Regions from separate parts of the Homo sapiens genome. Here region 2 is linked to region 1. The links come from fine-mapping of genetic effects on gene expression. A gene starts in region 1. The other region holds a variant in brackets. All regions are shown on one strand. Distances are between the middles of the regions. Region 1 holds the start of RASA2 (RAS p21 protein activator 2). Region 2 overlaps RASA2 (RAS p21 protein activator 2).

The links. PIP is the estimated chance that this variant, and not a neighbour inherited with it, causes the effect.
Region 2: its variant is fine-mapped to the expression of RASA2 in whole blood (TOPMed, PIP 0.98).

What each region holds. Positions count from the first base shown.
Region 1 is chr3:141,479,870-141,494,985 of GRCh38, reverse strand. RASA2 (RAS p21 protein activator 2) reads right to left here and starts at 7,959. Exons shown (of 24, transcript NM_006506.5): 1 at 7,770-7,959. The coding sequence starts at 7,902. RefSeq lists a silencer at 7,171-8,050.
Region 2 is chr3:141,613,074-141,628,189 of GRCh38, reverse strand. It overlaps RASA2 (RAS p21 protein activator 2), which reads right to left. Exons shown (of 24, transcript NM_006506.5): 24 at 12,846-15,116. Among named protein-coding and RNA genes, the nearest start is that of RASA2-IT1, 95 kb to the right of the region's middle. The variant C/T (reference allele first, on the strand shown) is at 8,617.

The DNA of each region.
Region 1 (15,116 bases):
ATCAGACGTTATATAAGTAGATGAAACTTACAACTGACTGCCCTCACTGGATCTCACAATCAACTTAAGAATAAATTCAGGCATCAGCCAAAGTATACAGATTTTTTAAATCTTTGCACAGGTTTTAAAATAATAGCTAACTTCCTTACAGCATAAAGCATTTTCTCACAAATCAAGAAGACTGTAACTCACCAGAAAAAAAAGGACAAAAGAAATAGACCAGTTCACATAGCACATCAAAAAAAAAGGCTCTTAAAAATATGAAGAGATCCTATAACTTAATTTCAAGCCTTAGAAAAATTTAAAATTTAAAAATTAGGGCCAGGCGCAGTGGTTCACGGCTGTAATCCCAGCACTTTGGGAGGCTGAAGCAGGCAGATCACGAGATCAGGAGATCGAGACCATCCTGGCCAACATGGTGAAACCCCGTCTCTACCAAAAATACAAAAATTAGCTGGGCGTGGTGGCACATGCCTGTAATCCCAGCTACTCGGGAGGCTGAGGCAGGAGAATCGCTTGAACCCGGGAGGCGGAGGTTGCAGTGAGCCAAGATCGTGCCCTGGTGACAGAGCAATCCTCACTCTCATTTAAAAGTGCAAATTAAAACTACAAATTAAATGTTCCTTTTTATTTCATAGACCAGTAAAGATTAAGAAGTTTTAAAATACACCCTACGTGGGTATAAAGAAATAGGCAGTCATACATTGCTGGTGAGAGCTTAAATTGCTATAGTTTAGCATTGTCTTTCCAAAATAAAAATGCACATATCCTTCAATTCATCAATTTAACATCTATCTAGAAATGTATCCTACAAAAAGACACTCATATTAAAAATGACATGCTTACAAGGTTATTCATTGTAGTAATGTCTGTAATAGCAATGACTGTTTACAACCTAAGTGTCAACTAATAGGGGACTGGCTAAATAAACTGTGGTACAGCCAAATGATGAAATATTATGCAGTTGTTTAAAAAATAAGGCAGATCTCTCTTTATGTGAATGTGAAAAAATCTTCAAGCTATGTTGTTAAGTGTAAAAAAGCAAGATACAGAAAAATGTATATATTTTGCTATAATTTGTATGTTGGTGGAAGGAATATATTAGTGCACATAAATTTATGTTTGTAAATGCTTAATTTCTGGAAGAACACACAACAAAAAGGATATAACAAATTGGTAATGCTTGCTTCTTGGGAGGGAATGGCTAGAAGATAATGAAAGGAAGGAATACTTTTCAATGTATATACTGTTTTGTACCTCTTGAATTTTGTACCAAGTGTTCATATTATCTAATCAAATAGAATTAATATATCAAATATATATGCAAACAAACTAAAATCTCACTGTAACTATACCAACCTTTCTACTGATACCTTTTAAATGATAGCACAGCAGGTTGCCATCATTTAGGTAGGGTATGTGGCTAATCTATTTGTGACAAAAGCAGAAATTCACTATCCTAGCTGCCCAACATCACCCCCTATGGAACTTTTGAAACCAGAAATTCTGACTTAGTAGGTCTGGGGTACAGTCTGGGCATCATAATTTTTTTAGTTCACAGGTGATGGTGACAGACAGTCAGAACTGAAAATAGCTGAGGTAGACCATGGCACAAGTAACTAAACATCCAGGTTCAATCTCCACCTAGGTCATAACCATAGTTTCATCACTAATCCTAACCACTTCACAAAGTTCTTAAGAAGGAACAGTTAAGAGTGTGTAGACGGCACAGTGAAAATCTTACCACCTCTCAATATATAAACAGATAAGTAGTATAATCTCTGTGTATTAAATGTAGTACATTTGCAACATTCATAGTAATAAGTTAATCTCATATAGCATTCTAGAAAGAACTTTGATAATAGTGGACTAGTGCCGAACAGGCCATCAACTGTGTGACACTTGCTGTCTCTGTTAGATTCTTCATTTGTAAAATGAAGGGTAAGAACCTTTATTTTCTCTACCTTCATGTTCTCTACCTTCCAGCTTTAAATTTCTATAATTGTCTAAGAATACAGATGTCTAAAAACAGCTATTGCTTAGTATAGACTTTAGGATAAAATAGGATCTTTCATCCGATTCACAGCTTAGGCCCATTTCAGTCCAGTGGGTTAGCGTCTCTTAACAGACCCTTCGATATGTATTACGTGCTGCTGAATTAATTAACAGTCACAGAAAAAAAATTTAGAATTCAAACGCTCTTATCTAATAAATCTTAAATATTTTTAAAACAGTGAATCATGCAAAACAAGTGTACTAAATACATTTAAACACTAAAATAAAGCATCTGATGTACTGCCTTAAAGCAAATGGTTCAAGTTAAAAAGCAATAATCAAAATGGTAGAAGGGATGTTAAAGACCATATCCAAACCTCTAATTTTACAAGTAAGGAAATACGGGCTCAGCAAGGTTAAAGAATTTGCCCAAAGTCATTGTCATTAATGACAGGAAAACAAATTTGTCATTTATGGTTCTCTGTATGTGTACTGATACAAACTTTTAATGTTTATCACTTTAGATAGGGGTTTTTGATAACTAAAATTACATACAAACCTAAAGAGATGCCATAAAAATGTCTTAATACACATAAAAAGCTTAACTTACATGAATATATGACTATACAACATTTTGTTTGCAGTTCTCAAAAGAGAATAGAACTTTATTAGTAGCAAAAACATGTAATCTGATATTATTGTCAAATAATTTCATAAAGCACATTAACAAGGAAATAGGATTAGCAGCTATGATTAAAGGATAAAATGATGGTTTTATTCTGGCTATATTAGTCACTTAAGGATCTATTCAAAGAGTTCTAAGTTTTAAAAAAACAACTCTATGAACTCACTGAGGTTTACCTCCCGTCTTCCACAGAGCAAATGATTAGCAGACTGCTCTGTGAACTTTTACAAAGAACCCTTTTCTCCCCAGTTTCTATCCATCTGAAAGATGGATTCTTCCTCCATCCTAAATAACTCATCATCTCATTTCAAATATCTGATAAAAATGAACTCTTAGCATGAATACACCCTTTTTAATCTCTTCCACTCAACTTTACTGGATAGTCAATAAAATGTTTTGATTTATACTTCACAGAATTAAATAGACGGTTTTATTCAAACCTGTCATGTCAAATTAAAACACTTAATGTGTAAAGTATGAATATGAGATTTTCTTTTCCAAGCTCCAGGACCAATTAGTAACAATATTCAAATGCCCTAATAATAAGTAATCAGAGCATTAAGAAAAATTTAATCTTTTTCCTAACAAGGCAACTTTGGCATCAATTCAAACCTAAGCTTAGTGGGCACTGTGATTTTGAAAGGGATGAACTTCCTGATGCAGACTCATACAGTTTTCTCTTAATACTAACACCTTCTAGTTTTTTTAGGTATATAATTTATAAAATACTTTCATATCTAGTAATTATCCACAGGATAACATTGTGAGGTAGGGCATATTCTAAAGGCCTATTCTGTTCTAGGCATTGTGCTGACACTGGGATGATTTTTTAAAAATGAACAAGAATCAATTCTATCTTGAAAGAGCTCACAATCTAACAGGAGAAGTGAACAAATGATTTCTATGAAATGTGCTATAATAAGGAAATGAGCAAGGAATTGTGTTCCCCAGCAGCAGAGATGCTGGCCAGAGATGGCACTGGAAGTGTCTCAGAAGGTTTTGGGAAGGAGATCACATAGAGCAGGCTTTTGAGGGATGAGTAGGAGCTTCCTGACATAAAGATGGGGTGGAGTAAAGAAGAAAGACAATCCCAAGCAGAGGGAACAACCTGTATACAATGGATAGTGGAAAAGCATCATTCCCATTTAAAAGATGCGGAAGGTAAGCTTCAAGATAAGTGAGCTGGCTAACGCCATATGAAGATTAATTAACAACGTTTAAAGAAGAATATAGGTCTTCAGATTTTAATCAGCTTTGTACACCTGGAAACTCCAGTATACATTGGACAAGAACATCAGATGAAGATTAGTTTTTATCTCCTACTTTACTCCTTCCTAAGAGATGGTCGGTGTATGACCCAGATCCTGGGGAGTGAGAAAGAGCAGGCAGAGATGAGGAGGGGCAGAGTAGGGAGGGAGGCTTATTTAAACCTCATAACAACCCGTGAGATAGGTATTTTTACTATCCCCATTTTATATATGAGAATATGAAGGCCCAAAGACATTAACAAAAGTTGGAAATTAGGTGAAGATTCAAACCCAGGTAACTAACTTTTTCACCCAGCCTCTAAGCTCAAGCACTTAACCATACCCTATAGATCTTCCCTACTCTGTCAAATAACCCTAGGCTATTCTTGGTCTGAAGACACCAGAGAAACTAAGTGAGTTTTGGAACACATAGTCCCACAGATCTCGCACTGTACCACACATCTGAAAATTCACACAAAATTTTCCCATTTGGCTCTCTTATTGATCTGGTATTCCTTGAGTAGATAAGCCCACACATATGGTGGCATGGGTGCTCTCCGCAACATTTTTACAATCTAATGTAATTGGATAAGAGGAAACTTAACAAGTGCTAATCAAAAAGGAGGTCACCAAATAACAGCATGAAGCCTGAAGATACATAAAGGAGGAAGCCCCAATCCCTCTTTTCTGTTTGAATACGGTTTTTTTTTTTTTTTTTTTTTTGAGGGGAGGAGGGAGCATGCAAATGTGTTTCAGGTGTTCTAGCATACTTGCTACTCGCTACACAGGAGTGCAGACCGAAGAATGGAGTCGAGTACACCCCTAATTTCCTTTATCAAGGGTTCATATGACAACCTTAGGATATCAAACAACCAAACTCACCTCTTGAAAAAGTTTAAGGAAGCAGACAATTCAGAACTGTCATGGTTTCCTAGCGCAAACTGCAGCAAATCCAGGGTTGCTGACAATATTTTGTCTTATAGATGGATCTCGAATTCCCTGGGTTCGTTTGAGCGCATATAAAACACCTGAAACATATTTGCATGTCCCTTCTTCCCTCCTCCCCAGCCCCCCGGCAAAAAAAAAAAAAAAAGTACACTCAAGCAAAAAAGGGGTATTGGGGCTTCATCCTTTATATATATTGAGGTCTCATGTTGTTATTTTGTGACCTCCACCTTTTTGGTTACCACTTTTTGTTAAGTTTCCTCTTGTCCAATAGACAAATATCTGTCCAACTGACAGATATTTCACCTTGTGAAGTATAAGGGGAAATAATTACAGGAATGAAATCCCTAAAGAAGGTTATGGACTATTATCTCTTGAACATTCAAGATACATAAACCAATCCATCCTCACTTTTCACTGGGGTGATGTGCAGTTTAAAAGTCCTATGCAAGTCCAGAAATAAGAAAATTTCTTCAGGCTAATTTTCAGCCCCTACAGATCTCTAACTCTCCAGAAAAGAGGCTCTCAATCAGTAGTATAAAATCTGCCAGCACATCTCCTAGTGGGCACTATCAGGCTTTCTTCCAAGGTTTCCTACTGTGGTGAAGAGAAAAGCTGACACGGTTACACCCTCCCCAAGCTGCTTAATATCTTGTCAGAACCACCACCATCTCATTTCTGTGACCTTGACACCTGCTAATGACTCTTCCAACCCCTCAGTCCCCACCCTACAAAACCCACATGTTAGTTTCAGGGAAACAGAAAACAGCATCTCTTCACAAGGTTCTGAATGTCAACCAACTGTGGATTACATCATTTAAAAGGAGGACAAAGAAATGGGAAGAGAGCTTCTGTATATAAGTATACAAATACATTTTTTTTTTCTAGAAAGCAGACACTCCATAACCTGAGCTATAAGATAAGCAATTTAAAAAGCAAGAAACTGACTAGGATAACAGATAGAATACTTCAACTGTGGTTAAAGCAGTAATATCATTCCCAGCAGCTGGATGATCAATTTCCAAGCCAGGGTTGCTTTAAACCATAGAAACAAAGTGGTTTTTTGTTTTTCTTTTTTTTAACGTGTAGACCCAAGTTTCACTTACAAAACTGTTCTTAGTGGTCTTTGGCATGGGGCAGACAAAAGCACAGGACAACTAAGTCCTTCTGGAAACCCTAACCCTCAATTCCAAGACATGTGTATATGTAGTTCCATGGTAAAACCTGCAGTTACGTACCAGTGAGTCTCCAATAGACAATGCCTAGCATCAAGTGGCACTAAGAAAGTGGTAAAAATCTGGAAAATCATATAAAGGGAGAAACTTTGGCCCATTTACAGTTTTCCCAAATGTTAAATTAGATATATGCAAAAGTTGAAAACAAAATTTTCCCCTCAAATATAAGGTTACAGAAAAAAGAAAAAATAAATAAAATTTAATCTGAATTCTGAAAAGGTTTTATGCCCTAGAAAGTAACTTTAATTTTGGGAACTAAGATCTACCTCTCTGGTGTCACTTTCCAGGTTTTAAGAACTGTAATCTCTTAAGAGCCCCAGGACTACCTCAGGGAATAAAAAGATAAGAAAAGTTAACATGTCTGCTTCTGAGGTTTCATAAAATCCCAAATACGTGAACCACCTGAAAAGAGGAAAAGTGGGAGAATGTGAGCTCAACAGTACTGGTATTAGAGGAGAGGAAAATTTTACATCCTGCCCAGGAAAGAATTGTTAGCCACTTTAATGCAAGTCAATTTTCTTCAAAGTGAAAAGTACGCCCTCATAATTGAGGGTTATTTATAAGAAACATGAAGCATGTTTCCAATCTGAGAATACTGCATGAAGAAAATAATGCTAATTTTCGACAAATGCAAAAATAAATGTTATTGATCTCTCTTACAAACAGAAAACAAAAAGCACTTCATCTAAATAAACCACTGTGAAAAAAAAAATGGCAACCTGACACCAAAGGGTCGTTTTTAAAACTAAAATGTTCAAATGACAGAACTCAAATAATCTGTCCACAGTAATGCTCGGACAACTCTGAGCAAAATTTCGTATTTAGTCAACTGGTAGGCTCGCTCACTAAAGTAGCAATTACACGCATGAGAAGGAAGGGAATTAAGCGGGCTGAGTGCGGGCTGGGTGATTGTGTTTTGAGACCTGCTCACAGGAAGCCACTACATCCTGCCTTTAGTCCCGCCTGTCACGCCGTCCCTCGATTCAAGTCCCGGCCGCAGCGAGGTGGGGCAAGTACAGGTGTCCCGCCGAGCTCCTCCCGGGGCGCTCACCCGCGAACAGACCGCGCGGTAGCCACTCGGGCCCCAGGGCGGCCCGTTTCCTGCAGCTCAGGGCGCCTTTTTCAACCTCTCCCAGGCTCGCCGAGCCCAGGAAACGAACAGCCCCCTCCCCTCGGGCCAGCCCCACTTCCCAGCCCGCCACCTCCTCGGGCCGCGCCTCCGTATAATTACTGCTCGGCTCCCACCGCGGGGCCACTCCCCAGCGCCCGCAGCCGCGCGAAGGCCTGAGTCTGAGGGCGGCCGGAAGCTCCTCACGCCCCCGGACCGCGCCCCCGGCCGCGCCCCGGACTCCAGCGTCCCCGCGTCCAGGCCGCTCCCCACGACCGAGCCCCTCACGCCGGCGCAGCCCGGGCTCTCCCACCCCAGGCCCATCTCCAGCTCCCACTCCCTCCGGAGAGCAGCAGCCCCGGCCCACGCCGCCCCGTCGAGGCGACGCCGCCCCCCAACACACCCCCTTCCAGCCTCAACCGCGCCCGGCCCAGGCCCCCTCCCGGGCCCGCGATCCCAGCGCAGCTCGGCGCCGCCACCGCCGCGAACCCGCCGCCCCCTCAGCCTCGCGCCCAGCGCCGCCAGGGCGTCCCCTCAGCCCAGCCCCCGCTTACAGATCTTGCCCCGCAGGCTCTGCAACACTCGAACCTCGCGACTGTCCTGGTCCCCGGCCTCGGGCTCTGCAGTCGCACTCGCCGCTGGCGCCTCGGAAGAAGCCGCCGCAGCAGCAGGCGCCGCCGCCGCCATGGTGCCGCCCGGCCCGTGCCGCAGCCCTGCCGCCTGCGTAGCCGGGCGAGGCGGAGCCCAGCAGCGGCCTAGGCCCAGGCCAGCCGCGCGCCTGGCCCCGCCCCCGGGCCTCGGCCCGACTCGCCCCGCCCCGCCCCGCCCGCCGCGGCCCCGCCCCCGCCCCCCCCGGGTCTCCATTCACCGCCTTCGCCACCCCCGAGCCGGGCTACCCTGCAGAGAACCGTACTCCCGGCTTGGGGCGCTGGCTAAGGGTAGCTCCCAGTCGTGGCTCTGAGCGGCCTTAAAATCCCCACCAGGAGAACGCCCCGGCCCTCCCGTGATCCCTAAATCCTCCCGGGAATTGGGCTCCCCCAATGAATAGACCTGCACATCTCCTAACGCTCGCGGGAAATACAGGCCCTTCCCAATCAGGGAAACTCCCTGTGGGAAGAAAATAGAATGGAATTTGGCAGGTGGGTGGACCTCAAAAGTATCTTATTCAAAAGGAGGCAAGAGATGCATTTGAGGCTCTTCCAGTATTATCCAAATACTCCCCGCCAGCAAGCCAAACTCCTCCCACACAAATACTCTTTACTAGGACCAATTCTCTGCAAAACCTGGTTCAAGAAAAGGACCAGCCACCCCCAACTCCAGCGTGAGTGCAGTGCCTGAGACCCTCTCATAGAGAAATTCTGAAGCATTTACCATCACTTTTGTATTTCAGGAACAGAAAAAGCAAAGAAGGGCTCCCCCCCGCCACCGCCACCACTACTAAAAGTTGGCTTTGTTAAAAAGTTGACTGACCCTAGGAAATGTGTAAATCTTTGACTAATTGTTAGCTTTATTTCAAGGGAACTCTTTACAGTGAGTAAACTGCATGAATAATACCCTGGTATGTGATGAGGAAGACAATTTCCTGGTGTTGAGGTTGTTAACTACGCTGCCCTAAGAAGGAAGAAACTGTGACTTAATCGGGCAGGGTAATTCTTTTCCAGGGCAACAACAGGAATAAGCCAGTCAGTCAACAAATATTTTTTGAGGGTCAGACATAGTGATGGCCTCAGACCTCAGAGACTACACAAAGGTCAAGATGAAGAGAGCTCCAGCTCATTCTGGAGGGAGACACAGAAAAGGCCAGAGGCACTGGGAGATAAGAAATAGGACGGGGAAACCTGAAAACTGAAGACAAACGCGCCGCCTGTGCAAAGGCTGGACAGCCCCAGAGAATGGTCAGAGTTTAACATGGACCTGGCCAGCGAAGCTTCCAGTTCTGCCTGTGTTGCAGGTGACTTCTATTTCCCCATGTGATCTTTACACTTGTTGGATAAAGTGAACCACTTCCTCTTATATGAATGTTTTGCTGTCATTTCAAACATAAGTCCAAAACTTAATTTCCTGTCTCCCTTTCCAAATCTGAGTTCACATCTTATACTGTTACTCAGGCCAGAAACTTTGACTTTTTCTTATCCCTTGTCCCAATGCTGTTTTCAGTTGCCACATCCTTCTGACTCTGCTGAAATCTCTTCCTTCCTTTCCATTCTCTGTCATTGCCCTTGTTAAAATTATTCTCATTTAAAGAGTATCAACGTGTTACAGGGTTTTTTCCCCCTTATTTTTAAAGGCATCCCTTTTTAGAATCAGACATAGAGCCTGTTTCTACCCCTTTTACATTTGGGCAAGTTACTCAACCTTCCTAAACCTGTTTCTGTTTCTTCTCTTTCTTTCTTTCTTTTTTTTTTTGACAGTCTTGCTCTGTTGCCTAGGCTGGAGTGCAGTGGCACGATCTCAGCTCACTGCAGCTTCAACTTCCTGGGCTCAAGCTATCCTCCCATGTCAGCCTCCTAAGTAGCTGGGACTACAGGTGCGCGCCACCATGTCCAGTTAATTTTTGTATTTTTGGTAGAGATGGGGTTTTGCCATGTTGCCCAGGCTGGTCTTGAACTTCTGGGCTCAAGTGATCCATCCGCGTCAGCCTCCCAAAGTGCTGGGTGTAAGCCACTGCGCCCGGTTGAACCTGTTTCTTTAACAGTAAAGTGGAAATGCTAAACTTTCTTCTTTGAAGGGTTGTTATTAAGATTAAATAAGTATTGGGAGCAGGGTGTTAAGTGTCTAGTGGAATGCTGAGCACGTAGTAGGATTACCTCAGTAACTGACCTCATGCTTTTGACTGGAACTCTGGTAATAAGTCCCCCATCCCTCTCATTCCTCCTACATACCACTTAAATTAACTTTCCTAACAAAAAAAATGGAGCTTATCAGTTGCCTGCTCAAGAGGACATCAGTGGCTTCATTTATCCCTTCAGCCAGCTAGCAAGAGCACACTACAGGTAATGAACAATGCTAGAAATGACTAAAGTTCAAATTCTTCAGCCAAGAGTTGGAACTGGATCCAGCGTACCTGACTCCTCTGATCTCCAGCCACACTGAGCCCCTTTTCTCACCAGCCTGATTCTGGCCTTCCTCCTGCTTGGCCAAGCGATGCCTCATCCATCTATTTCTTTCTCCAATAAACAGAGAAATTATTTGAACCTTTGGACAAATGTATCCATGGATAAAGTATCAATGTACAAATGGACAAATGTATCCAATGGACAAACGTATCCAATGGACAAAGTATCAATATCTTTGTCCATTAGTGTCAAAATCTTCTAACTTCCCTTCCTTTTCACTAGCTTAACCCCAAGTGCATAACTCTGTTACTAAATGGTCACTAAAGGTATGAAAACAATTTTACATAAAGGGACACTCCACTTTTTTGTTCTTCCAGACAGTCTTCCTTTTGCAGATTTCGGACTTATACCGTTTCACTAAAATCCCCAAACTCCATTGCTTTTTCATCCGAAGTCACTTCTAATTATTCTGTTTTTACTGATACTTGCCTACTTTGAAGAGATCTTGGGTAATGTCAATGTTTCCTTAATATAAAATATTTGGAAAATAAAGTTTTCTTTCTTTCTTTCTTTTCTTTTTTTTTTTTTTAAGATGGAGTCTTGCTCTGTTGCCCAGGCTGGAATGCAGTGGCGCGATCTCGGCTCACTGCAAGCTCCGCCTCCCGGGTTCATGCCATCCTCCTGCCTCAGCCTTCCTAGTAGCTGGGACTACAGGCGCCCGCCACTGCGCCCGGCTAATTTTTTTTGTGTTTTTAGTAGAGACGTGGTTTCACTGTGGTCTTGATCTCCTGACCTCGTGATCCACCAGCCTCAGCCTCCTAAAGTGCTGGGATTACAGGCGTGAGCCACCGCGCCCGGCCGAAAATAAAGTTTTCTAAAGACTAACAAGACATACAGTATAATTACGAGAAGGCTGTTACATCTCATTCCCCTTATTGCCCTTGCATTATGTTTTAAATTCATCTAGAGTTCCTCTCTTTTCTTCATGATGTTTAGTAACTGGAACAATATTGCATCATCACAAACTTGAACTTCACTTCCTTCCTCAAATTATTAATGAATGTGTTTAAAGGCCATCCCTTCTATCCCTACCACTCTTCGTTCTGATGAGCAACCATTCACTACTATGTCTTTTCCTATTTCTTCACCAGTTTTAAACTCATTCAGTCATTTCAACCCATACATTGGCTTGCTTTATGGCAGATGATGTAGGAAAACTACATTGTCTCTTAATAAGAAGACTATAACCTGCAGCTAGAAACTAATTCCATAACTTGTCTGTTACGGCATATTTTTGAATCAGCACCCACCAACCTATAACATGGCATTGTAAGGGGTTGTCTCCTGGCCTTGAGTTATTTATTACATTTTTTCTGGCGAGTAGGAGGAAGAGAAATGTGCTTTCTTTTTAATATTTAAATGTAGATCATTTTCATAGGGCTGGACACTCATGAGACAGAACTGTTTCTGCCGGACTGGTGGGAAAGCAAGTTCCTTTGATCATTGATGACTTGGTTTCCCCATTTGCCCCATCAGAGTACTGTTTGATGTTAAGCATTATGCACTAATTACATTATTAAAAAAAAATCTCTAAATCCAACTGGCATTTTAAAAAATAAAATTGGAGTGGTAGGAGGTGAGGAGAGACCTTAAATGTTCAGAAAACATACTTTCAACATTTCATTTGAAGACCAAATAAGGCCATTGACAAGGCTGTGTGGACAAAAATGTGGACAAATTTTTACCTTAAAACCTCCAACTCCTTCGGTACAAATATTTTCAAGGCCAGATGTGATGGCTCATGCCTGTAATCCAACAGTCGGTTGTAATACCAACTTTGACAGGAGGATCACCTGAGGCTAGGAGTTCAGGAGCAGCCTGGGCAACACCGTGAGACTCTGTCTCTACAAATATAAATAAATAAATTAGCTGGGCATGGTGGCACGTGCCTGCCTGTACTCCTAGCTAATCAGGAGGCTGAGGTGGGAGGATTGTTTGAGCTCAGGAATTTGAGGCTGCAGTGAGCTATGATCATCCCAGTGCACTCCAGCCTGGGTGACAGAGAGAGACCCTGTCTCTAAAAATAGAATTTTTTTTTTTTCAAATTCTGTCACCTCTTGCAAGAGAACTTTAAAGGCCTGAATATCTGAGCACAATACAGCTGATGCCCTTAGGTCAGTGTGACTTCAGTTATTTCTCAATCCCCCTCCTTTTGAACTATTTTGCCATATCCATTCCATCTGCAGTGCATTCTTGTCATTTTAGTGATAAAACAAAACAATGGGTGTAGGCTGGGCATGGTGACTCATGCCTATAATCCCAGAACTTTCAGAGGCCGAGTTGGGTGGATCACTTGAGCCCAGGAGTTCAAGACGAGCCTGGGCAACATAGTGAGACCCCAAATCTATTAAAAAAACAAATCAAAAAACAAAAACAACAAAAACCCCCAAAACTCAAAACCAACCAAACAAATAAAAACATACAAAACAATAAGTGTAAAAAGAAAACTGGAAATGTTGTGCAGCCATTCACTTGTTTCATTTTCTACTCTGTATTCATTCATAAACAGGACTTTATTGGGTTAGCTTCTTTGCAATTCTTTTGGCTTTTGCCTCATGGTCACAATATGGCTCCTGTACCTCCAAATATCTCAACATCCAATGGCAGGAAGGTGTATTTTTTTTTTTCTAAAATGTCTTTTTCATTACTTTCAGTGGCAAGATCATAGTTACTTTTGCACCAACCTAATATTAGGGAGGAACGCTTTTCCAGGTAGCTTTCCTGTAAATCACCACCATGAGGTATCTTCTTAAGGCTCATTTACAATCACAAGGAATATATAATTTTCTTAGTCTAAGCAACATTGATACCCCTGGGTCTGGGGATGAACCCTCCTTCCCAAAGTACATTGCTACTTGAGACCTGAAGCCTGAACCAAACCAGTGTTTTCTTGTGACACAGAAAGGGGAGCAGTAAGACATGGAGTAGGCAGCCAACTCTGTTCACCATATCAACATACTTATCTTCCAATAATAGTGCCTAAGTTCAAATGAAAATATTTCAATACATTTAATGCCCAATCTTCACCTCCTGACTTTGTCTCACAGAACTGGCCTCTTTTTCCTTTAGGCCATTATGTACCATGTATATAAGAATACACATAATCATTGTAGTGCTCATAACACATTTACTATTCCTGTTTGTTTACCTGTCTGAAACCATCTCAAAGACTGGACAATGTTTTGTCTTTGCCTCCCTAGCGCATAGAAAATATAGAAGAACACAGAAGGCACTTATTAAATGTTTGATAAATGAACGAATGAATGAATGAGCAAATAAATGAGATAATGTGTTCAGAGAAGCTGCTAACAAATGAGCCTAGAATTCTGAATTTAAAATCCACAAGGGAAATCAGAGCAGACCACAGAACCAGCTGGCTGGGTCTGGGCTTTGCAGAAAGCTTAGGTGCAGAGAAAAGGCAATAATAGCTCAGGAGTCAGATAAGGAAGGAGAAAGGGAAAGAGTCAGGGTCTGAGGTTTCCAATCCTCACACTGGGCTGGGGCTGCGTCTGTCACAAGCAGCTCATTTTTGTCAGAGACAGCCAAGGAGAGCAGAAGCTCATCGATCATAATCTGTGTTCTAAACGTAGGCTAGATACAATTTTTTGTGGGTGGTTGTAGAAGCTGGGAAAACTGATTTCAAAGTTGCAAGGTGTTTTCATACTTGTTATTATGACCAAATATCTAGGCAGCATGTCAGTCTGTGGCTACAAATGAAATCCTGTTAACATAAATAATCCGCAGTTCTCTATTGTGTCTCCACTTTCTACCTGCCCAAATAATTAAACCTCTTCCCAATTATTGATTTTCAGGAGTGCCCAGTGGGTTACATTGGCAGAGTAGGGTGTGGGGAACATGATGGGGTTGCTGGATTTGTTATATTCTTCCTCTCCTGCTCTGGCTCCCCCTGCCACTGTCACAAAAAGGGACCCTCACCACTTTATGATGCCTGCTATGAGACTATCAAGGCCCAAGCCGAGAGCGTTATCCTTCAGAACCCGCGGGGCTTCCACATTTTCAGCAAAGTTGGCAAGAAGGGTTACCTCCCCATTTCTAGGCCCAGCTGCACTGCTTGGGCTCAGAGTCTTTAGGAACAGCCCGGCCTGGTATCCTAGCCCTCACAGTTGAGGGTCCAAGGGAAGGAGAGAGGCCAGCATTGACCTGCCTAGGCCAGGGCTATTGGTTGCCCTCTCCTAGGCAACTGCCTCCTGCCTTTCATCTAAAAGAGGGCAAGATTGGGGATGGAATGAGGGAGTGAACCCCTCAATCCTTATCACATATATAAAGATAAAATATTTTAATAAATTGTATTTTGTCTAGTTCTAAAGACATTGGTACTTATTTTATAATCATATAACTGAATTTTGGAAAACTGACTTGGATATACAGCCACAAATGAAAGCTCGTGGCCTATCAAATAATTACTCGACATGGCCACCAGAATGTAAAACATCTAGTTTGTGTATTGTTGTTTTAAGCCATGTAAGGTGGGTCCTTAGGACTGAATTCTTGGGCTGTCTGTGCAGAGATAGAACTGGGAAGGGCTGTTGGAGAGAGGGGCCAAGGAGATTGAAATAAAAATCCAGAGGCATTTATAGAGCATCTGTATGGAAGGCCAAATATACCACTGTCCCCAGCACCCTTAACTCCAAATAATCCTTCTTAGTGAATGTCTTATCTGCAATGAGGCAAAACAAACGTACTAACACCTCAGCTAAACTTTCTCAAGGGGCGTGATGGAATATAAGCTAGATTCTGAGGATTCTCTCAGAATGAGCAAAGCAT
Region 2 (15,116 bases), 130 kb before region 1:
CTATAGATTAGTCTTCACTTTCTAGAATTTTATATAAATAAGTCACACAGCAAGTACACTTTCTTGTCCAGCAATTATTAATTATTTTACTCTGAATAATGGTGCTGAGATTCACCCCTCCTGTTACATGTACCTGTTATGCATTTCTTTTCTTTTCTTTTCTTTTTTTTTTTTTTTTTTTGAGATGGAGTCTTGCTCTGTTGCCCAGGCTGGAGTGCGGTGGCGCAATCTCGGCTCACTGCAACCTCTGCCTCCCGGGTTCCAACGATTCTGCCTCAGGCTCCCGAGTAGCTGGGATTACAGGCGTGCGCCACCACACCTGGCTAATTTTTTTACTTTTAGTAGAGACAGGGTTTCACCATGTTGGCCAAGCTGGTCTTGAACTCCTGATCTCATGATCCGCCCGCCTCAACCTCTCAAAGTGCAGGATTACAGGCGTGAGCCACTGGGCCTGGCCTGTTATGCATTTCTTTATGTTGCAGAGTCGGAGCACACATCCAGCCTCAGGATCAAGCTCTCTTTAAGTGGGTGTTTAAGAGGCTGTCCTTCTTTTCTGCCCTGTCACCCCAGGACACAGAGCACCTTCTTTTCGCTTGCACTGAGTGCATGAATCATGTAGGTCAATGTGATTCTTAGGCAGGAGGTTTATGGCGGCCACAGTGGGGATCTGCACTGATGGATTCTTCCTAAGGAGCTGGCTCCAGACAAGATCAGAGGCTTGAGTTCAGAGAGCTACACCTGGTTTCTCAGCTCCTCCAGGAGGCAGAGAAACAAGGGAAAACTGAGGTCCAGAAAAGGCAGTATAATTTGAGATTGTTGGGCCAGGCACACTCTGCTAGGACTACCTTCGTTCCCCACTGGGCTGACCTTGCATTTTATAGAGATGCCCCAAGCGATGTCACCTAAAAAACAAGGATTTATCGTTTAAGTCTTCTTAATTAGAAGAGAATGTCTACATTATTTACCAATTAACTCGTCGCTCCTCCTCAGGGGCAGTGCTTTAGCCCCAGGGTTCTATAATCACATACAAAATATTTCCACTATTATGATGCTCATTCAAAAATAAATAAATATCAGCACCCCCACAGATGTTTCCTTATTTGCTGAAGGAAAAAGAAGATAAACACAGTTATTGTGATTCACAATATTTGTGTAAAAGGCACCACACTAGAGCCTTCCCAAGTACTCCCAACAATAATATTTTGAGAACTTTAATTTTTTATCTTGGGTGGCTCCATGCCACTTGGATTCAGCTCGGGGCTCCCCCTCAGTGTTAACACCTACAGTAAGTCAGAGGAGGCTTGCAGGATGACCCGGTGCTTCCAGGAATTGCCTGTGCCCTCCAGAGGCAGGCGGCCGATTTCCCTTTGGCAGCAGGTGTCAGGGAGGTCTACAGCACCTGATCACCTTTCCAGATCAGCTTGGAGGGTGCTAAAAGCAGGGGTTCTCCAACTTGAGTCACCGTCAGAATCACCTGGAAGGCCTGTGAAACAGATGGCTCAGGCTCACCCCGCAGTGGCTGACTCATCTGTGCTGGGGCCTGCAAAGATGCATTTCTATTTTTTTTTTTTTTTTTTGACAGAGTCTGGCTCTGTCACCCAGGTTGGAGCACAGTGGCGCGATCTCGGCTCACTGCAACCTCTGCCTCCCAGGTTCAAGTGATTCTCCTGCCTCAGCCTCCTGAATAGCTAGGACTGCAGGCGTGTGCCACCACACCTAGCTAATTTTTTTTTGTATTTTTAGTAGAGACAAGGTTTCACCATGTTGGCCAGGATAGTCTCGATCTCTTGACCTTGTGATCCACCTGCCTTAGCCTCCCAAAGTGCTGAGATTACAGGTGTGAGCCACTGCGCCTGGCTGGAAAGATGCATTTCTAGCAGGTGCCCAGGTAATGCTGATGCTGCTAGTCTTGGGGACCACACTTGGTGAGCCACTGGTCTAATGTTTCTCTTTCTTTCCAAAGCTCCCTAAAATGTTAACTCTCAGATGGGAAACCGATTTGCAGAAGCCTGAGAAGAAACACTCCATCTCCCAGGGATTGAACTGCAATAGGGGGTTTAAGGAGGGCGAGTGAGAAAGGACCCTCTGGCTGATTCCCAGGCTCTGGGTGAAGGGGTTGTTTCAAGGGTCAAGAATCTGCCTGGTACCTGACAATTTCCTGGAAGGTACTCAGATGTGGTCACTCCCTGGGATGACTGTGCTGGGAGAGGATTATCCTGGATTCTCTGTGGCTGTCTGAACTTGGGACAGAGCATCCACAATATTGGGAGAAAGTCCTTAAAGTTTTAAGTATCTGAGCCCAGTCAGTTTTTGGGACTGAGCCACAGAGAGGAGGGAGTCTGAGGCCTGACCTTGGCCCCTTGCCTGTCCCGGGTGGGCAGATCCGCAGGACTGGGCAGAAAACTCTGTCAGTGAACGAGAGTTAGAAACAAGTGTCCAGTAAGCCTGAGGCCTGGGCCTGGAGGTGCAGGGACAGTGGGCTCGTCAGGAGTCTACACTGAGGAAGGAGCAGAGCAGAGTGTGGGGAAATGAGGGTGGAGGTGGCTTCTGAGCTTGGGAGGGCAGGGGTGACTCAGGGCCCATCCTGGCACAGTGCCCTGTGTCTGGGCCCAGCTTAGGTCTGGTGCTGGGAAGCATTTCACCAGGGCATGTGAGGGATGAACTTCAGGGCTCCAGGGCCGGTGATACACCTGTCCCCCTGGGCTCTGGCTGGGCCCCTGCTGTCTCACGTGGCTGTCCTCCACACCTCCTGCTGGGCCCATTCAGACCCGAGAGGGGCGCACTCCTGGGCTGTCTGGCGTCAGATGTGGCATCTTTGAGGTGGGCTGCAGGTTAGACATCACAGGTGCCTGCCATGATGCTTCCTGTTTCCTCATCCAGCTTCCCCCATTCCTGGTCCTCCAGGTTCCCTTCTGGGCCCCTGCATTCGGAGGCTGGTCAGCGGCCCCATTGCATCCTGTGCCTCTGCCCTTGCTCCTCAGTGGTAGCTGAGCCTCCCACAGAGGCACTGAGCATGTGCTAGCCTGCCTTCAAGTTTTCTAAGCCTTGCACTCAGGCTTCCACCCGTTGGCCTGATGAGTTGGACTGCTCTGGGCCATACCTTCCTTGTTGGGATGGCCACTTACCCTCTCTGGGCAGCAGAATCTCCCTCGGTGTCAGGACCGTTGTGAGGATTATGTAAGAGAGTGCTCATGAAATGCATATGAATGCCCTCTGCGTTAGCTCGCATCCCTGCTTCTAGAACTCTGGTCCACTTTGACCCCAGTGTCTGGCACCTGAACCTTGCCTGCACCTGGTGATCTGGACTGTGGGTGGGCTGTATACTGGCAGAATTGTGCACTGAGGCAGAGCCGGGTGGGGCTAGAAGGGTGGACTAGGTTCTCTCCCCAAGGCCATGAAAGTTTAGATGATGTGGGAATTTGAAAAAGAGTCAAAGATGCTCTGCAAATATGATTATTGGAATGTGAAAAGATTCAAAATGAGGGTTTTTGAACTGCAAGGAATGGAGGGGGCCTTTCTACTATGAGGTGTGACTAATCCTTCTATACAGGGTAGAGCCCCCCTCCTCTCCCCTTCCCTCCCCTCCCCTCCCCTCCTCTCCCCTCTCCTCTCTTTTCTTTTTTCTTTCATTGAGACCAAGTCTCCCTCTGTAGCCCAGGTTGGAGTGCAGTGGCACAATCTTGGCTCACTGCAACCTCCACCTCCCAGGTTCAAGCGATTCTCCTGCCTCAGCCTCCAGAGCAGCTGGGATTATAGGCACATGCCACTGCACCCAGCTACTTTTTTGTATTTTTAGTAGAGACAGGGTTTCACCATGTTGGCCAGACTGGTCTCGAACTCCTGACCTCAGGTGATCCACCATCCTCGGCCTCCCAAAGTGCTAGGATAACAGGCATGAGCCACCACGCCTGGCCGCATCTTTTCTATGAGAAGAGTTTAAAGGGTCCCTGGAGCCTGTCCCGAAGCTACTCTTCACGCTATTACGTTTTCAAATGGGAAAGAGCAGATGGCCGTAGAGGTGAACCCTTGCATGGACTTAGATTTAGGGCCCCAAAGAATAATGACTGCCCCGAACACAGGTGTCCTCCTTTACCACCAACTACACACTTCCTGAGGGAGGCAGAGGCCTTAGTCTCCAATTTCCAGCAAAAGGAGTGGAGACTGGGTGAGCAAGGGACTTGTCTAAGGGGACATGACAGCAAGGAAAGGAGCCTAGGGCCCTGACTCCAGCTTCCAGGCTCTGAGACACATCCGCACCAGTGCGATTCCACCGATGGAGCAAAGGCCGGGTGCCCAGTGAGTCACCTGAGAGAGGCCTCTTGGGGCCAAGTCCTTACTGAGGCTGGGCGGGGAGGCCCTGCTGGAGGGAGGAAGGAGGGGTCCATGGGACAGGGAGGTTGGGGCTACCCTGGGCCTGCTTGGAGTTTTATCCTTTCCTTGAACTTAGGACTTTCTGGAGACTTGAAGATGGTCCCTCATAAGCTGACTGCATCCTGCTTAGAGCTCAGGGGCGCACCCCCAACAGGCACCTTCCACCCCTCAGAACCAGCAGCCACAGGCGGGCCAAGGGCAGAGCGCCTCTCCCCAGGGGCTCCTTTTCCCGAGGGACTGTGTCCTGTGTGTGTGGAGAGAGGACAGCTGCCAGATACAATACATAAGTACTGCATGGAACATACTTAGACTAATAAATTATTTGTTGTTTCTCTGAAATTCAAACTTAACTGGGTGTCCTGTGTTTTATTTCCTAAATCTGTTAACCCTAGCCCAGGCGGAACCCACATGCTGCTGCGGTGGGAGCTTCTGAAGTCCTTTCTGCCCCCAGGACGGTTCCAGAACTGGGTGGGGCTGCCTTCAAGAGGCAGGGTGGAGGGACAGAGGGCTGGGGGAAGGACAGGGCCTGCAGGAGGCAGTTTTTGGTTCGACACAGTAAAAATTTCCTCCTGGAGGCCAAGGGTGGTGGCTCACGCCTGTAATCCCAGCGCTTTGGGAGGCTGAGGTGGGTGGATTGCTTGAGTTCAGTAGTTTGACACCAGCCTGGGCAACATGGTGATGAAAACGGGAGAGTCCCCTGACCCCTCCACGCAGGACGTGCAACAGGAGTGTGGCTCGTCTGTTTGGCTGCCATATGCATTCAAACCCCTTATGGGAGGGGGAGCAGATGGGCAGGTGCAGGAGCTGGGGCGAATACCCCTGGGCTCCAGCCCCAGGGCAGCGCCCAGGGGTGGGTGTCTGCGACCCCCAAAGCCCAAGTGGGTGCATGTTACAGTGCCCTCTTTTAGCCTTGCCGTCCATGGACGGCTCAAGTTTTAACCAACTTCAGTGCCCTCTTGGTACCCAGGTCCTTGTCCAGCATCCAGGAAGCATCAGGTTGCATGTGGACTTGAAGGATGGTGAATGCAGGGGTTTTGTTGAGTGGTGGAGGTGGCTTTCAGTGGCATGGATGGGGAGCTGAAAGGGGGATGGAGTGGGAAGATGATCTTCCCCTCGAGTTTGGCCATTCAGTGGCCAATCTCCTCTCCAACTGTCCCCAGCCGAACTCTTCTCCGTGTTCACACACTCCTCTTCTCTCCGCCAGGCCATTCTGCCATTCTGCTCTTCTGTTCATCTCATCTGCTTGTGGAGCCTGGGGTTTGGGGTTTATACGGGTACAGGATAGGGGAGCATGGCAGGTCAAAAGGCAACTTTTGGGGGCGAAAACAGGAATGCCTGTCCTCATTTAGGGCCGCAGGTTTCCAGGCTTGAGGGTGGGCCTTTGCCAGGGAACTGCCCTCTTCTATCCAGTATTTCCCTGTCTCCTGTGTGTATCAGTGACACCCTGTCTCTATTAAAAATACAAAAATTAGCCTGGCATTGTGGTGCATGCCTGTAGTCCCAGCTACTCAGGAGGCTGAGGCAGGAGAATCGCTTGAACCTGGGATGTAGAAGTTTGCAGTGAGCTGAGATGGTGCCACTGCACTCCAGCCTGGGTGACAGAGCAAAGCTCCATCTCAAAAAATAAAAATAAAAATAAAAATAAAGAAAGAAAAGAAATCTCCTTCTGGCCTGGGGTCATCATCACGGCGTGCCTCCCATTCTGTGCCCTTCTGGCCACCAGGGCCTCGGGCGGGGCTCTGATCTCTCCTCTTCAGGGAGCCCTTTAGCTGTCCATCCCCTAGGCCCAGCAGCTTCCCCACCTCCCTCCTCTCAGGTGTGGTGTGGAGGCCACTCCTCCTGAGGCCCCACTGTTAGGCCTGGAGCCTCCTACTAGGGGACCAGCATGGCTCCTAATATCCTAGTTAGGGTTGGTTCAACCCACACAGAGTCCCACAAAGTCACCTTTGCTCCGCTGAGCCAGCAGTTCTGAGAAAAGAGGTTTCTCTGGAGCTCTTGCGTGGTAATGCTGCTGCTTTCTTCAGCAGGGTGGAGATTTCTCTGTGTACTTCTCGCCCCTGGTAGGCTTCCACCTGCACGCTTGCATGAGTATCCCTAGCACTGAGCAAAGGTAATAGAGAGGAGAAGTCAGGGGCACAGCCAAATGGAGAACCTGGGGTCATGATGCCCTGATCTGTGAAAACAAGGTCTCTGTAGCTCAGACAGAGCAAAGTGGAGTTCCCCTTGCAGACAGCTTTGGATTACCCAAAAATAAAGCCTGACACTCACTGAGCACCTGCTTGTGTGCTCAAGGACCTGAGCTGTGTGACTCTGTTTATGTTCCACACACCAACTCTGAGGTCAGATATCATTATCATTCCCATTTGATGCTTGGAGACTGGGGTTTGCAGAGCTTAGGGAACAAGGCCAAGGCTGCTTAGTTGGCCAGTGGCACCAGGTCTGTCCCTTAGGCCTGTGTGCTCTTAACTGTTGGATACACTAGGCACTAGTGACATTTCGGACCTGACACTTCTTTGTGGTTGGGGTCTGTTGTGTACCTTGTAGGATGCTTAGCAGCATCTCTGGCCTCTACCCACTAGATATCAACAGCAATTTCCTAGTTGTGACCAACAAAAATTTTTTGAGGCTGGGCATGGTGGCTCATGCCTGTAATCCCAGCACTTTGGGAGGCCAAGATGAGAGGATCACGTGAGGTCAGGAGGTCGAGACCAGCCTGGCCAACATAGTGAACCCCCTCAACCCCTACTAAAAATACACACAAAAATTAGCCGGGCATGGTGGGGCATGCCTGTAGTTGCAGCTACTTGGGAAGCTGAGGCATGAGAATCACTGGAACCTCACAGGCAGAAGTTGCAGTGAGCCAAGATTGCACCACTGCACTCCAGCCTGGGCGACAGAGCGAGACTGTCTCAAAAATTTAAAAAAAAATTTTTTTTTGAGATACTGCCAAATGTCCCCTGGGGGCAAAAACCATCCCTGGTTGAGAATCACTGTTCTAAGGTGGTCCAGGTGTTGCTTTGTCACAGGCAGAGCCAGTCTCATGAAGAGATGGAGCAGCCAATGGCTCTCAAAGTGTGACCCCCAGTCAAAACCCCCACAGGTTGAGTGAGCATCAAGGGTTTGAAGGAGGGCTACCTAAATGTTTTGGGCACCTCTTATGAGATTGGGTGTCTGTCTCAGGCCTCGTAGTAATAATAACATTTATTTAGAATTTATTATGTGCACTAGTTCAGCAGAGGGCACGATAGCACTGATCCTCTAAGCCCACCTATGTGGCCCTAAGGGTGGCCCTGGAAGCCCTGAGGAGGGTTGTGGGGTCTGAGGCTGGTGCAGGCCGGGCCTTCCCAGGCTCTGTAAATGGCTGTTGGTGCCTGAGGAGCCCCCACAGCCCCCACCTCCAGGCCATTTTGTCTTCTTAAGATGACAAGTGAAGGGTTCCAGTGAAAAGGAGGCCAAAGGACAAGCTCTTCCTCCCACCCCCAGCCCTGTGGGGCTGGTTGTATTGGAATTGCAGGAAATTGTAGGAAGCCTGGGTCTGGTTTGAGAAAACACCTCTTGAACTATGACTGGAAACGTGAACTCCATCCCCCTCCCCGCCACCCCTCGCTGTTGTTAGGGTGGCTGAAAAACAAAGGTTAACTGAATGTCGGCACTTTCGCTGACTGCTATATAGACTTTAGGAATTTAGGGTACGCAGGTGATATGATTTGCTTCCCTACTATGTTTTAGTGGTCTGTTGGTAAAAGTTTTCACATATTTCTCAATATGTGGATAAAATGTTTCAAATAGAGTGATTAGATTTAAGCATTTCTATCTCATAACTGAGCAAATCTCTACATTCCCTTAAGCATTTAAATAAAATAAAATGTTTTGAAACTTTCCAAGATACAAGTAAATAGAGCATTTACTTATAAAAATTAGCTTGAGATAATGATTTACTTTATTTTTTGCTGCAAATGTTTTTGAAATGTAGCATTTTTGTTTTGTTTTCTTTCAAACCACCACACAGAAAAATCCAACTGAGTCTCCAAATGATGGTTACACTCTTACTGGCCACACGTTTTAATTTTTTCCATGTTCCCTGTAAACAGTGGGAGGGGTAGACGAGTGGCTGCCCAGCCAGAGGAGAGAATATCTGGATCTATGCCGCACACTGGAAGGGCCATTATCATCCAAGATGTGTTCTGTGCCAACAGAATGCAACTGTCAGTCCACTCCTTATTTGAGTCATAAGGCTGCTTTTTT[C/T]TTCTTTTTTTTTGGAGACAAGGTCTTACTCTGTCCAACCCAGGCTAGAGTGCAGGGGTAAAATCTTGGCTCACTGTAGCCTCTGCCTCCTGGATTCAAGCAGTCCTCCCACCTCAGCCTACGGAGTAGCTGGGATTACAGGTGTGCGCCACCATGCCCAGCTAATTTTTGTACTTTTTGGTACAGATGGGGTTTCACCATGTTGACCAGGCTGGTCTCGAACTCCTGACCTCAAGTGATCCGCCTGCCTCAGCTTCCCAAAGCGCTGGGATTACAGGCGTGAGCCACCGCACCCGGTCAAGGCTGCTTTTTGTCCATACACGTTGGCGGAATGGGTGCTGGGTTCATTTCCCACATCAGGCTCTTTCATCGGTTAAGCCAAAAATCTCAGGAATGACCAGGACTCTTCTGGGGGAAGCATGACAATACATTCTATAGGGTCAAAGATGCTACTAAATTGGTCCATTGTCATGGAGTTTTTGGGGAAGGCTGGGAAGATCCTCTCAGGAAGAGTCCACTGGAGGAATTATTGAATGATCTACACAAATAATTGGGGGGTGGGAGGGGCCCTAGGGGTTGTCTGGGCATTGAACTTGTGAAAAATCCTCAGGTCCCTCTGGTCCAGTCCCTAGCTTGACCCAGAGCAGCTTGAGGGCAGCATCTTAGGGCCCCTGGGTTTAGCAGGGTGTGTAGTGCGTAGCAGGGGCCCGATGCTTTTTCTAGACAATATAATCTTTAAAATCTTACATGTGTAAAGACACACAAACCCAAAGAGGTTATTTAACCAAGATCATAAATGTAGTTTCTAGTTGAGTCATCACTGTCAGCCAAGACATTGCTGTTCCATCATTAGCCACAGTAAGTTATTCCTTCATGGAATGTTTATTGCGCCTTTTTGCAACTAAGAGCAAGGGTTGTAGGGTATAATAAAAGCCCTTCCCTATCCTTGGAGTCATTTACAATCTGGTGAGGAAGTTATGATAAATGTCTAAAACTAGATAAAATACGTGCTGCTACTAAGTGATTTAAGTGGACCTGGCTTCCAGGAGTCATTAACATGGACATAGATAAAACACATAAAATCCTGCTCCTCCTATAGTCTTTCCCATCTCAGTGAATGACCCCTTTTCTTCCAGTTGCTTAGGCTACTGGATCTTCCCAGACTCCTTCCACATTCTGCCTGTCAGTAAATCCTGTTGGCTCTACCATCAAACATAACCAGAACCTGACCACTCCAATCACCCATGGCACTCGCTATCACTATCACCCCTCACCTGATGAGTGTACTGGCCTACCTGTCCCCTCTTCCTCCTATGGCCTCCTTGAGATGTTTCTCAACATAGCAGTCAGAGCAATCCAAAAAAGGTAAGTGAATCACGTCATTGAGCCACTTGACCTCTCCATCACCCAGGTCTCCTGTCTCCCATTCCCTCTCACTCATCCTGCTTCAGCCACACCAATCCCCTTGCTGTTCTTGAGTATACCGTGTAATTTTATTTCTTCTTCCTATGAGGATCTTCCCCTCATATCACATCACTTCGCTTCCTATCCACATCACTTCCTTCCCCACCTTCTTCAGGTCTTTGTTGAAAAATATCTCCTTCCTTGACCCCTCATCCTATTCAGCACTCCCTGTCTCTTTCCTGCACATTACTTTGCTCCATACCACCATCTGACATATTTTACTTTTCTTCAATTTCCCAGAGTTCAAGCTGTAAGGGACCAGTGATTTTTGCTGTATTCTTACTCCTGACACATAATTTTGATGGCAGTTTATTACTAAGACTTTAGGTCAAGATTTGGAATTTACTTTAGCCTATATTCCTGTGTTTTCCAAGCTTTAAAAGCAAATGTCCCACATTAACACCAAAACCTCAGGCCCCAAAGGTCTCCAGGTGAGAATTATGGCCTCATCTATGACTCTCTCTCAGTGATGATTTTGTTGACCTTTGTTTTTGGTAGTTTGTATTATAAAATTAGGTGACATTCTGCATTTCCAAACGTAAAATAATATTGATAATGTCTTTCAAACTACATTCTGGCTGGGCAAGGTGGCTCACACCTCTAATCCCAGCACTTTGGGAGGCCGAAGTGGGCGGATCACCTGAGGTCAGGAGTTTGAGACCAGCTGGCCAACATGGTGAAACGCTGTCTCTACTAAAAATACAAAAATTAGCCGGGCGTGGTGTTGGGCACCTGTAATCTCAGCTATCCGGGAGGCTGAGGCAGGAGAATTGCTTGAACCTGGGAGGTGGAGGTTGCCGTGAGCCAAGATCCCACCACTGCACTCCAGCCTGGGCGACAGAGCGAGACTCCACCTCAAATAACAAAAACAAAAACAAAAAAACTACATTCTGATGCAGATTCTGAGGTGTCTGTCTAGGGATCATTTACCTCATTGTGCACAGGGAACCATTAAAATAATGGTTGCTCCTTTAACTCTGCAGGCAGTGTGGTCTTCTTGGTTCTGGATGGAGTTGAGAAAAAAAATGTTAAGTTTGGAAAACAATGTTATCTGCTCTAGACAACAGAATTCTTTCTTGATGAGTAAAATTTATGTATCTAAGACTGAACTCCATCTCAAAAAGCAGATCAATAAAAAGCACAAAGCCTTTGCCTAATAGTACAAAACAAAAAGGTTTGAAATACAAGGCAGAAAAGCGATGAAATCTTAATAGTACTTTAATTAAACAAGTCACACCTCTGCTGTCAATATAAAAAATAGGCATAAGCTCAAAATATGATGGCAAATGGTGTCCCCAAACTGTGAAGTCAAATGGCAAAATGGTAAGCCAAAGAATGAACTTCTTGGCCACAAAAGAGCAAACCTCAGGTGAAGGTATGTATGAAGAATTAAGACCAAAGATCTTTAAATATGGTCAGCACCCACGACAGGTTATTCTCTGAAACGTTTCCAGAGGAGTTCAGTACTTGCCACTGGAGTAGAAAAACATATACCAGGAGTGGCAAAGTATGTCTTGTTTCTTATTCTTGTGTAATAAAGGGACTCTGGCCCTAGGTGTCTCTCATTTTGGAATCATACAATTTGAAATAGGAGTATGGTCCCCTCTCCCTTAAATGCCTAGTTTACTTCTATCGTAGACTAGAACCCTAAATCTGATGCTTTTCACAAGTTCTATTCTATACATGGGCTAGTATGACAGGAATTCTAATGTTTCAATAAATATAGAGATTCAGAACCCTATCCTTTGCACTTTGTTAACCTTTAATTCCTCCGGAGCCCAGGGACTTTGTTTTATAGAAGGGTTTTTCAGGGATGCTATTATAAAAGGGTTCAGGCACGAATCAGGGAGGATCCTGGCTTCTCTTGTTGAGGGCACAAGTTATACCCACTAACCTGGTCTCTGGTGCTGTCACTTTATATTCTCCAGGCATCTCACCAAAATGGCAGAACACAGGCAAATTCTAACATCCTGAAGGATGATGCACTGAAGGTCAAGCTATGGGGTAGGTTAATCTGCACGGGTCAGTGCAGGGCCTGAGTAACCATAGGCTCTGAAAGAATTCTTCTTTCTACTCTTCTTTAAAAAGTCAAACATAGTCTGGAAAACTCAGCTTTAAACTTTATCTAGACACAAGTGAATTATATTCCTCCATGACAGTTGTACATGGCTCTAGGGAATGACAGGAGCCTGCAAGGTGTTTTGAACACCATGGGTCCTCAAAACAAGTCTGTTGAATGAATGAACATGTAAGAACACAGCCCATTAGAGGCTGGGCGCAGTGGCTCACGCCTGTAATCCCAGCACTTTGGGAGGCCGAAGTGGGCAGATCACAAGGTCAAGAGATAGAGACCATCCTGGCCAATACGGTGAAACCCCATCTCTGCTAAAAATACAAAAACTAGCTGGGCGTGGTGGTGCGCACCTGAAGTTCCAGCTATTCGGGAGGCTAAGGCAGGAGAATCGCTTGAACCCAGGAAGCAGAGGTTGCAGTGAGCCGAGATTGTGCCACTGCACTCCAGCCTGGGGAGAGCAAGACTTCGTCTCAAAAAAAAAAAAAAAAAAAAAAAAAAAAAAAAAAAAAAAAAAAGAACACACCCATCAAAAATCAGCCTAGTTAAGTGCAAGAAAACTGAACACTTTTCAGATTGCATCATTCTTACTGGAGACTTCTCACTTCCACAGTTCCCTTACTAATAGGAAAGGTATAATAATTTTAAGAAGAAATTACTAAATCAGTAAGAAAATACAGTCTCACAAAGAACAGACAGGCTTCTTGTAATTTATTTGAGTTATTTCCAAGCGACAGTTACAAAAGTTAATTTTTATAATACTCTTGATAAGAAAATAAAATTTAAATAAAAATACATTCTCAACAATACAACATGGTTACACAAATTCACTACATTAAGTTTTGATAACTTACATTTTCAAACTGGGTACTGTAAAAACCAATATTTACTAGCAACATATTAATTTCCAAATTAATAAAAATGGAAGCAGATAATATCAACCAAGATTGGTAATTTAACTCTAGAATGAGTCTTGTATTTTTCACATACTGTAAAAACACCTAAAAGGCTATGCAGAATTCTGTCTTTACAGGATGTACCGTTAGAGCAAATTAAAGGTGCTTTCACTTAAGAAAAAGATCTGTTTTTCAAAACCTGGCATAAATGAAATCAGGCTTCAGAAACAGAAACAAAAGCCATATTATTCGTCACCTTTTTTTGTTTCATAAAAAAAAGCCTAGTTTTCACACTTACCCATTACCCGTGATATTAAAAACAAGTTTCTTTGGCAAATAAAATAGTTCAATTTGATAAATTATATTCCTGGGAGTAAAAATGTTTGCTATTGCCCATCATCTTATTAAATGAATATTAAAAAACAAAGCTACACAAAAACAAAACAACAACGAAACAAGCAACAGATCACACCACAATTTCAACTGATGGAAATGGCTAAACTAAGAACCAGAACCGGCATTTATGGCAAATTTCCCCATATCATCCTTTTCTTTCCTTCCTGGAGTTTTTAGGTTTTTAGGATGAAGTGAGCTGCCTTGTATATTTTCAAATGTGGAAAAGGTAGAGAAAGAATATCAGGTAGTAAAAATTAAAACATTTGTAAGTAACAGCAGAGGAATGAGGGCCCTGGAAGCAAATTCCTTGGTTGTCTTAGGGTCCTACTTACATGGTCTCTTATTTCAAAAGACTTTCAAAGAAAAATAATTTAATTTCACATTACTCCTTTTTTAGGCTGTGCCAAGTTGGTTAATTCCAGTCAAACTGGCTGTTTAAAAGTGTCATGTGAAGAAAAGAACTAGATGGCTGAACTCTCCTCCTTTCAAATCCAGAGTTATATATGCACACAGCCTTGGTCCCTGTGATCATACCATGATCTTTAAAACAATCACAATTGGGGATTTGGTATTAGAAATGCTAGATGCATATTTCTTTTGCCTTAAAAAAAAAAGCAGAGGACTAAAAAGCCACTAAAGAATAATGACTGGTATCTGGCAATGTTTACATGTTCTTCGCAGGCAGACATTTCAGACACTCTTAAAAGGAATTTTAATCTAAATGCAATTTGAGAATAAGAAATTTATTAAATGGCTAAATTCTTTCAAATGTATAAATCAGTGTAGTTTATGGAATCTACAAGCTTATAAAATTTAAAGGACTCTTTCAAACTTGTCTTTAAAATGAGCTGGGAGTAATAACCTACCATAATGCAGACTTAAACATAATTCATTGATTTTTACAAGTCATTTAGAGAAATACATTGCTCAGTTATATTCTTTTATGGAACAACTTTGATTGTATGCCAGTAGTCTTTAAAAATAATTACCTAATAACAATATAATTTAAAAATGATTACCCACCAATAACAAAATTGGCAAAGTATATCTTGAAATATAGCTTATGCTCAGACAAAAAAAGTACTACTAGCAGACTTACATTAATAAGTCACAGTTTTGAACAGAAACATGTAAATACTCCAAGGTTCAAAGTACCACATTTAGAAAATGTTTTGAATTAAAAAAGACAAAATAAGAGTACCATGGTTTTTAATACTGATGAAGCAAAGTGTATCCCTCAACTTCAAGGTGGCAACTTGCTTCGACTGCTTATTTACAGTTAGGGTTTTTAGGACAAAAGTAAATTTCTAGGGTAAAAAAGTCTTCAAAGAGTTGCTTGCCCAAATTCCATTTGGCTAGCAGGCAATAAGGAAACAGCAATGAAATATAAACATTTTCAGGAAAGCATTATTTTTAGACTTAAACACTGATCATTCAACTGATCATAAAGACTAGATACCATGGAGTATCTAAAGTCAAATCTGGAGCAGTCCAGATTATTAAAGTGCGCCAAGTGACTGTTCTCGAGGAAGATCAGAACCGAACACTATGAGGAGGGCATCCTTATGGTGGCCCTTATTACAACATGAAATAGTGGGTGAAGTGAAGTGATTTTCCCACCACCTTCATTCCCTGTTTACTTTCTTTTTGAAGAGATGTCCTTAGAAGTCATG